Homo sapiens: one gene and its partner. Changing the gene in region 1 together with any one later gene gives a genetic interaction. Each region holds a gene or a part of one and is shown on either strand. Other genes may lie near its edges. The genes, in order: PPAT and NUBP1.

Region 1 (3,823 bases):
ATTCACCACTTAGAGATAACCACTAACTCACTGTTTCCTGACATAATGACTTACCTAGATGCTAAACTTTATCTTTACCTTTAGCTCCCTACTGAAAATGTTCTGTAGTGCCCATTCAGACTCAATCTGTGCATGTCCATGGGGCTGCCCTTGTCTTGGTCAGTCCTGCTCAGAACTTTGTAATTATCATAGAGTACACTCAAGCGATATTTATTACATCTGCTACATTTCATTGTTCAATACAGTTGATTACTTTCTTCTATCAGTAATAATCAATGAGGATGGGTAGCCACCATTATGATCACTAACAAACCCAGCTTGAAAGTTATCACTGTAGTGTACTACTTTTATAGGAATATACCCAGTTCATCAAGAGTGTTGAGGGTAGAAAATGTCAGACCCACAAATCAAATTTTTGGGAACCCCTACCCACTTTCAGGTCTGCTTGCCTTCAGATTTAGTATTCAAAAGCTTTTCTGTACATCTCATAAAGCACATTTTTCCTGCTTGAAAATCTTCTAGATTTCCTATTGCCTCCAGCCATGGTCATCCGTTATTAGTATATACATACTATTAGCGCAGGAGTCCCCAACCCCTGTGCTAGGGACTAGTACCAGTCTGTGGCTTGTTAGGAACCAGGCCACACAGCAGGAGGTGAGTGGTAAGTGAAACTTCATCTGTATTTATAGGTGCTCCCCATCGCTCACTATTACCACCTGAGCTCTGTCTCCTGTCCAGATCAGCAGCAGCATTAGATTCTCCTAGGAGCATGAACCCTGTTGTGAGCTGTGCATGCAAGGGATCCAGGTTGTGCTCTCCTTATGAGAAGCTAATGTATAATGCCTGATGATCTGTTACTGTCTCCCATCACCCCCAGATGGGACTGTCTAGTTGCAGGAAAACAAGCTCAGGGCTCCCACTGATTCTAGATTATGGTGAGTTGTATAATTATTTCATTATATATTACAGTATAGTAATAATAGAAATAAAGTGCACAATAAATGTAATTCGCTTGAATCATCCCCAAATCATCCCCTGTCCCTGGTCCATGGAAAAATTGTCTTCCACCAAACTGGTCCCTGGTGCCAAAAAGGTTGGGGACTGCTGCATTAGTGGGATGCAGGATTTTTGTAACTGGACATCCACAGAATGCCTTATTTTCATTATGGTTGGCTACTGGGTTTGGGGTGGGGTGGAGCTTCCCCTCTGATGATTAAACTTCTCTTTTTTTCTATATAGCTTCTGCGTCATGGTATTGGTCTGTCTACAAGTTCTGATAGTGAAATGATTACCCAGTTACTGGCGTATACCCCTCCTCAGGAACAAGATGACACCCCAGACTGGGTAGCCAGGTAAGCAGAGAACTGGACTAAACTTAGAGCTCTAGTAAGGAGAGTTTTGCCTTGCATATGTTTATAACTGAAGTTATTCATTCAATTATTTAATTAATTCCAGGATTAAAAACTTGATGAAGGAAGCACCCACAGCATACTCCCTGCTTATAATGCACAGAGATGTTATTTATGCAGTACGAGATCCTTATGGAAATCGTCCCTTATGCATTGGTCGTCTTATTCCAGTGTCTGATATAAATGACAAAGGTAATAAACTTTAGAAGGAATATCATTTCATAGTGTTTTTCCATTATTGTCCTACTGCTATCAAGCCCTGAAATCTTTAGGTATAGAAAGTTGATGGGTGGGAGGGAGCTAGGTAAGAAAAATAAAAATAAATGTATTCTTCCTTTTTAAAGTACGTTTCTTTGAGTACTCCTGAGGATGAGTCCCCCCCCTTTTTTTTTTTTTTTTTTTTTTTTTTTTGGAGACCGAGTTTCACTCTTGTTGCCCAGGCTGCTGGAGTGCAGTGGTGCGATCTCAGCTCACTGCAACCTCCACCTCCCAGGTTCAAGTGATTCTCCTACCTCAGCCTCCCGAGTAGCTGGGATTACAGGCGCACACCACCATACCCAGCTAATTTTGTATTTTTAGTAGAGACAGGGTTTCTCCATGTTGGTCAGGCTGGTCTCAAACTCCTGACCTCAGGTGATCTGCCCACCTTAGCCTCCCAAAGTGCTGGGATTACAGGCGTGAGCCACCACGCCTGGCTGGATGAATCCCTTTTAATGTTTTTAATAGAGATTCCTATTTTTTCCTGTCTTAATTGGCTATTCATGTCCTTTGCCTAGCTTTTTCATTTCTGCAGTATGATTTTAGTGGTTTCTTTTCACTTTTATCAAGATATCTTTTTCTAGCCATGAAATCATAATGTTAGAAGGAATCTTAGAAGATCATTTATTTTATCTTTGGCTCAAGTCAAATGAGGATCCATGTGCTCTTAAAGTCATAGAAATGGCTATTCTATGAGTTTTATTTACTTATTTATTTAGTGTTAGCTGTTCCATTGAAATAGCCTCTTAAAATTTCTGGAATCCATTAATTGAATTGATTTGTGATTTACAGAGAAAAAAACATCAGAAACAGAAGGATGGGTGGTGTCTTCAGAATCTTGTAGCTTCTTATCTATTGGTGCAAGGTAAGTTTTACCTTGTTTGACATATTTTATTTTCCCATGTTGAAAAGAATTTTTTTTAGACAGTTTCTTATTTATGTGAAAGTTTGAAAGTTTTCTTTTTGATGTCTGCAAGAAAATATTTATAAATGGTTTTTCTTATGCATGTTATGCTCAGCAGTTGCACTGAGTTTAATGTTCTAGTAATAGCTTCTAATTCTGAAGCTGGCATTCTTTCAAGATACTATGAAACTTATTTTCTTTATTTTGTATATTTTTCTCTTTTTACAGTACAATATGAAAATAGAGACTTATTTTAGAAAGGAAGAACTTCCTCAATGAGAGATAGTTATGACAGAAAAATGTAAGCCAGGAGAAAATGTTTTCTTTATACTTTATTCTTTTAAAATTCAATACAACTTAGGGCCCTTAATTTTTTAATTCTATACTAGAACTTAGTGTTTACAGAGAGATTATAAAGAAATCATTGCAGGAGACATACCACTTTAAAAAGTCACTTCTAGATTTTATATTGAATGAATCAATTGTTTCTCTAAGGGAAGGTACTCTGTGTGCTTTATAATTAATATTTTCATCAGCCTTAAGGACTAGTTTATTAAAAGTCTTCTTTCTTTAACATTGTTTCCCAAGATATTACCGTGAAGTCTTGCCTGGAGAAATTGTGGAAATATCCAGACACAATGTCCAAACTCTTGATATTATATCAAGGTCTGAAGGAAACCCAGTGGCTTTTTGTATCTTTGAATATGTTTATTTTGCAAGACCAGACAGTATGTTCGAAGGTAAGTAGATTTCTTTTCTTTGAACATTCATATAAATGTTTTAGCTATCTCCTTGAAACATGGCAATTCTTGCCTCAAAGGCTTACCTGGCTCTTTGAAGGCATATAGTTATATGTTGTGGATATAGGACTGAGCCCACAAGTCATAAGATCACTATTTTTCACTTCCTTTTGACTCTTGGATTTTGTTTTTTGTTAGGAGTAAGGATTATGATTTTCTAGATCTATATGAAGGTCGATTTTTTTTTTAAAACCACACAGTTGAGTTCCCCAGTTTGTGTATTTTCACATTCATATTTTTGTATATATTGCATTTCTTTTTATACTCAATCTGTAGAATTCTAGCACTAGTTTTTTAGAATAACACTGTTATATCATGCTAAGTAAAAATACTCTCTCTCCTTTTCCAAACACACCAGACCAAATGGTTTATACAGTAAGATACCGTTGTGGCCAGCAGCTAGCGATTGAAGCACCTGTGGATGCAGATTTGGTTAGCACTGTTCCAGAATC
Region 2 (3,823 bases), on another chromosome or scaffold:
GTCTCCAGACATTACCAAATGTCTCTGGGGGATTTTGTCCCCAAGTTGGTGACCATTGCTGTTTGCAAAGTTCTCTTCTGGAGCTGGGAATACAGCACTGAAAGCTTCAGACAGTTCCTACCTTTGTGGAGACTATGTTCTAGTTGGGGGAGACAAACGTGTAAACCAATAAATGAGACCCCTTCAAGTGTGATAATAGCCTTATTTTCTTCCTAGCACTTATTTCTACCATTGTCTGAGAGGTATTTCAGAGGATCGTTTTAAACAGCCCCAGGACTAGTACTAGGACTAGGACTTAGCTCTTTCTAGTTGACTGGAAGCGTGACATTCGAGGTTTGGTGTGGGACCTCATCCCCTGAACTTTGGTTTTCTTTGCAGCTATAGAGGAAATCAAAGAGAAAATGAAGACTGTAAAACACAAAATCTTGGTATTGTCTGGGAAAGGCGGTGTTGGGAAAAGCACATTCAGCGCCCACCTTGCCCATGGCCTAGCAGAGGATGAAAACACACAGGTGAGACCTCAGGAACCACTGGGAGATGCTCATTTTGTCTGAGGGTCGTGATGGCTACTAAATAACTGATTCCTAGGCCAGGCGCAGTGGTTCATGCCTGTAATCCCAGCACTTTGGGAGGCCAAGGCGGGCAGATCACTTGAGGCCAGGAGTTTGAGATCAGCCTGGCCAACATGGCAAAACCTTGTCTCTACTAAAAATACAAAATATTAGCTGGGCGTGGTAGCGCAGGCTTGTAATCCCAGCTTTTCGCGAGGATGAGCCATGAGAATCGCTTGAGCCCAGGAGGCAGAGGTTGCAGTGAGTCAAGATTGTACCAGTGTACTCCAGCCTGGGTGGCAGAATGAGACTGTCCAAGAAGAAAAAAAAATGATTCCTTATACTAAGTTGAATTGGCCTCTTTGGAATCTCAATCCGGCAGAGAGCAAAGAAATGCCCAGTAGTCAAATGAAGCATTTCACTGGATTCCCTAGCCAAGAAAATGGCTAGCAGATGTACATCTGTCCTTGCATGTGGATAGTTTATTACATTACGTTCACGCTTCTTTTTCCTCTTTATTAACCCCTTTTAGCTTTTCTCTAAGCCAGGGACCTGCAAACTATAGCCAGTGGGCCAAATCCAGCCCATCTCCTGCCTTATGGCCTTTGAACTAAGAATGTTCACATTTTTGAAATGTTTTTTGTTTGTTTGAGACAGGATCTCACTCTGTCACCCAGGCTGAAGTGCATTGCTATGATCAGGACTCATTGCAACCTCTACTTCCTGGGCTCATCAAGCTATCCTCCCACCTCAGCCTCTCAAGTACCTGGGACTACAGGTGCTTGCCACCATGCCCGGCTAATTTTTGGGTTTTTTGTAGAGATGAGGTTTTGCCATGTTGCCCAGGCTAGTCTTGAACTTCTGAACTCAAGGCGTCCCCCTGCCTCGGCCTCCCAAAGTGCTGAGATTATAGGCATGAGCCACCGTGCCTGGCCTAAAATTGCAATTTTTAAATTAGTACCTAAGTACCTACATATGATCCTTGATTTTGCCCACAAAGCCTAATAATATATTTGCTGTTGGCCCTTGTGGAAAATTTTTGCTGGCCCTTACACGAGTTTATTCATTTCCACCCATGCATACAGACGAGCATGAAAACTCAGATTACCCACTGCTGCCCTCTGGATCTCAACTTTAATAAAAGGGGTTGGTGGGTCGCTAAGAGCACACACTCTGGAGTCAGACAGCCCAAACTCAGGTCCCAGCTCCATCTACACCACTGCTGTGACCTTGGGCAAGTTACCAGGCTTACTCTGCCTCCGTTTTCTCATCTATAAAATGGGACTCCAAGGACTGAGTGAGATGGCACAGTAAAGCACTTAGCACGGGGCCCGACGAATAGTCAATGCTCAGTAAAGGTCTGTGATGGCCACCATTTTTATTACTTTATTTCACTCTCTGGATATGAAGGGATGATGATTACATCTGCCTTAGAGATGAGTTTGTAGCCTACCCAAGGTATAGTACTGGGCAGATTCAAAATACACTTGTTGGGCAGGGCATGGTGGCTTACACTGTAATCACAGCACTTTGGGAGGCTGAGGCAGGCGGATCACTTGAGGTCAGGAGTTTGAGACCAGCCTGGCCAACATGGTGAAACCCTGTCTCCACTAAAAAATACAAAAATTAGCTGGGCATGGTGGTACGTGCCTGTAGTCTTAGCTACTCGGGAGGCCGAGGCATGAGAATCGTTTGAACCCAGGAGGCGGAGGTCGCGGTGGGCCAAGATTGCCCTACTGCACTCCAGCCTGGGTGACAGACAAGACTCCATTTAAAAAAAAAAAAGGATATAGATAGATACACAGACACATACACACACACACACACACACACACACACACACACACACACACACGTTGATTCGTCATTCTGTGAGTCAGCGATCTCTTGCCATTTGAGGGTCAAATCTGTACTGGCCTAGTGGGCTGGCCAAGAAATCTGCTTTCTCAGATTGTCTGTATCGTTTAGAAGAATCTTTGCTTTTCGAAGCTGTCAGGAATATTCCTAAACAGCTCACTGGAGATGGGCTTTCATCTCACCACTTGCAAGTAACCACTTGTGAGTAGACAACTGTTTACATCCTTCACTTTCATGTAATTACGTTCTGAAGTCTTTGCTGCATGCCTGTCTAGACTTTGCAGTATACAGAAGGAAAGCACACCATTCAGTGTGGAAATATGGCTAGATCAGCTGTATTTTTTTATGCAGTGGTGGTTTAAAAAAAAAAGAAGTCAGCATTTAGGAAAGTGTGTTTTCCCCAGGCAGACCTACTCATGACAGTGACATCACTATCTGCAAAGTGTCAACACATGGAAAATGCTGAATATGTCTTGATTAAAGTCAAGCAGCACAGATTTCTCCCTGCCCTAAATCCAGCAGGGTGGTGGGACATGCCCTGACCTTTTTCTGCCTGCCATCTGGTGGAAGCTTGGCTCTAACTCTGTGCAAGACCATTCCATGTTAGCGCTTGAGGCAGGCAGGCGCCTGTCATCTCATTGGCACAAAGGGCCTTGGATCAAGAGAGAGCAGAATTAGAAAACACCCCTGACGAGTCACAGGCTGCCCAGGGAGTGTGTAAGTTGTGGTGAAGGCAGAAGGAGCCTCTGTAGCATAAGCCTGAGCCATGAGACAGCCAAGAGTCATACACTGTCTTCCACTGCAAAAGTCACCGACTCCCAGCCTGGGCTTCAAAGTGAGACCCCTGTCTCTACAAAACATAAAACATAAAAAAAGTTAGCCAGGTGTGGTGGTAAGCACCTGTAGTCCCAGCTACTCAGGAGACTGAGGTAGGAGGATCACTTGAGCCTGGGAAGTCAAGGCTGCAGTGAGCCGTGATTATGCCACTGCACTCCAGCCTGGGCAACAGAGTGAGACTCTACCTCAAAAACAATGAATAAATAACAAGTCACCAACTTCCATAAATTAAACTTTTTTTGTTTGTTTTTTTGAGACGGAGTCTCATTCTTTTGCCCAGGCTGGAGTGCAGTGGTGTGATCTCAGCTCACTGCAACCTCCACCTCCCGGGCTCAAGCAGTTCTGCCTCAGCCTCTGGAGTACCTGGGATTACAGGCGTGTGCCACCACACCCAGCTAATTTTTGTATTTTTAGTAGAGACAGGGTTTCACTATGTTTGCCAGGCTAGTCTCGAACTCCTGACCTCAGGTGATCCGCCTGCCTCAACCTCCCAAAGTTCTGAAATTATAGGCGTAAGCCACCACACCCAGCCACCATAAATTAAACATTTATGATCTTTGTGATCTGAAAGGCAAACT

Evidence for each region.
Region 2: changes in PPAT (region 1) and NUBP1 together harm fitness more than expected from each alone (negative genetic interaction), as found in Homo sapiens cells (one large-scale study listed by BioGRID).

The regions. Positions count from the first base shown.
Region 1 is NC_000004.12:56,400,818-56,404,640, reverse strand, and holds part of PPAT (amidophosphoribosyltransferase), read left to right. Parts: intron 1-1,239; coding exon 1,240-1,352; intron 1,353-1,455; coding exon 1,456-1,601; intron 1,602-2,459; coding exon 2,460-2,532; intron 2,533-3,159; coding exon 3,160-3,311; intron 3,312-3,729; coding exon 3,730-3,823. UniProt on the Homo sapiens protein: Catalyzes the formation of phosphoribosylamine from phosphoribosylpyrophosphate (PRPP) and glutamine.
Region 2 is NC_000016.10:10,746,765-10,750,587, forward strand, and holds part of NUBP1 (cytosolic Fe-S cluster assembly factor NUBP1), read left to right. Parts: intron 1-378; coding exon 379-512; intron 513-3,823. UniProt on the Homo sapiens protein: Component of the cytosolic iron-sulfur (Fe/S) protein assembly (CIA) machinery. Required for maturation of extramitochondrial Fe-S proteins.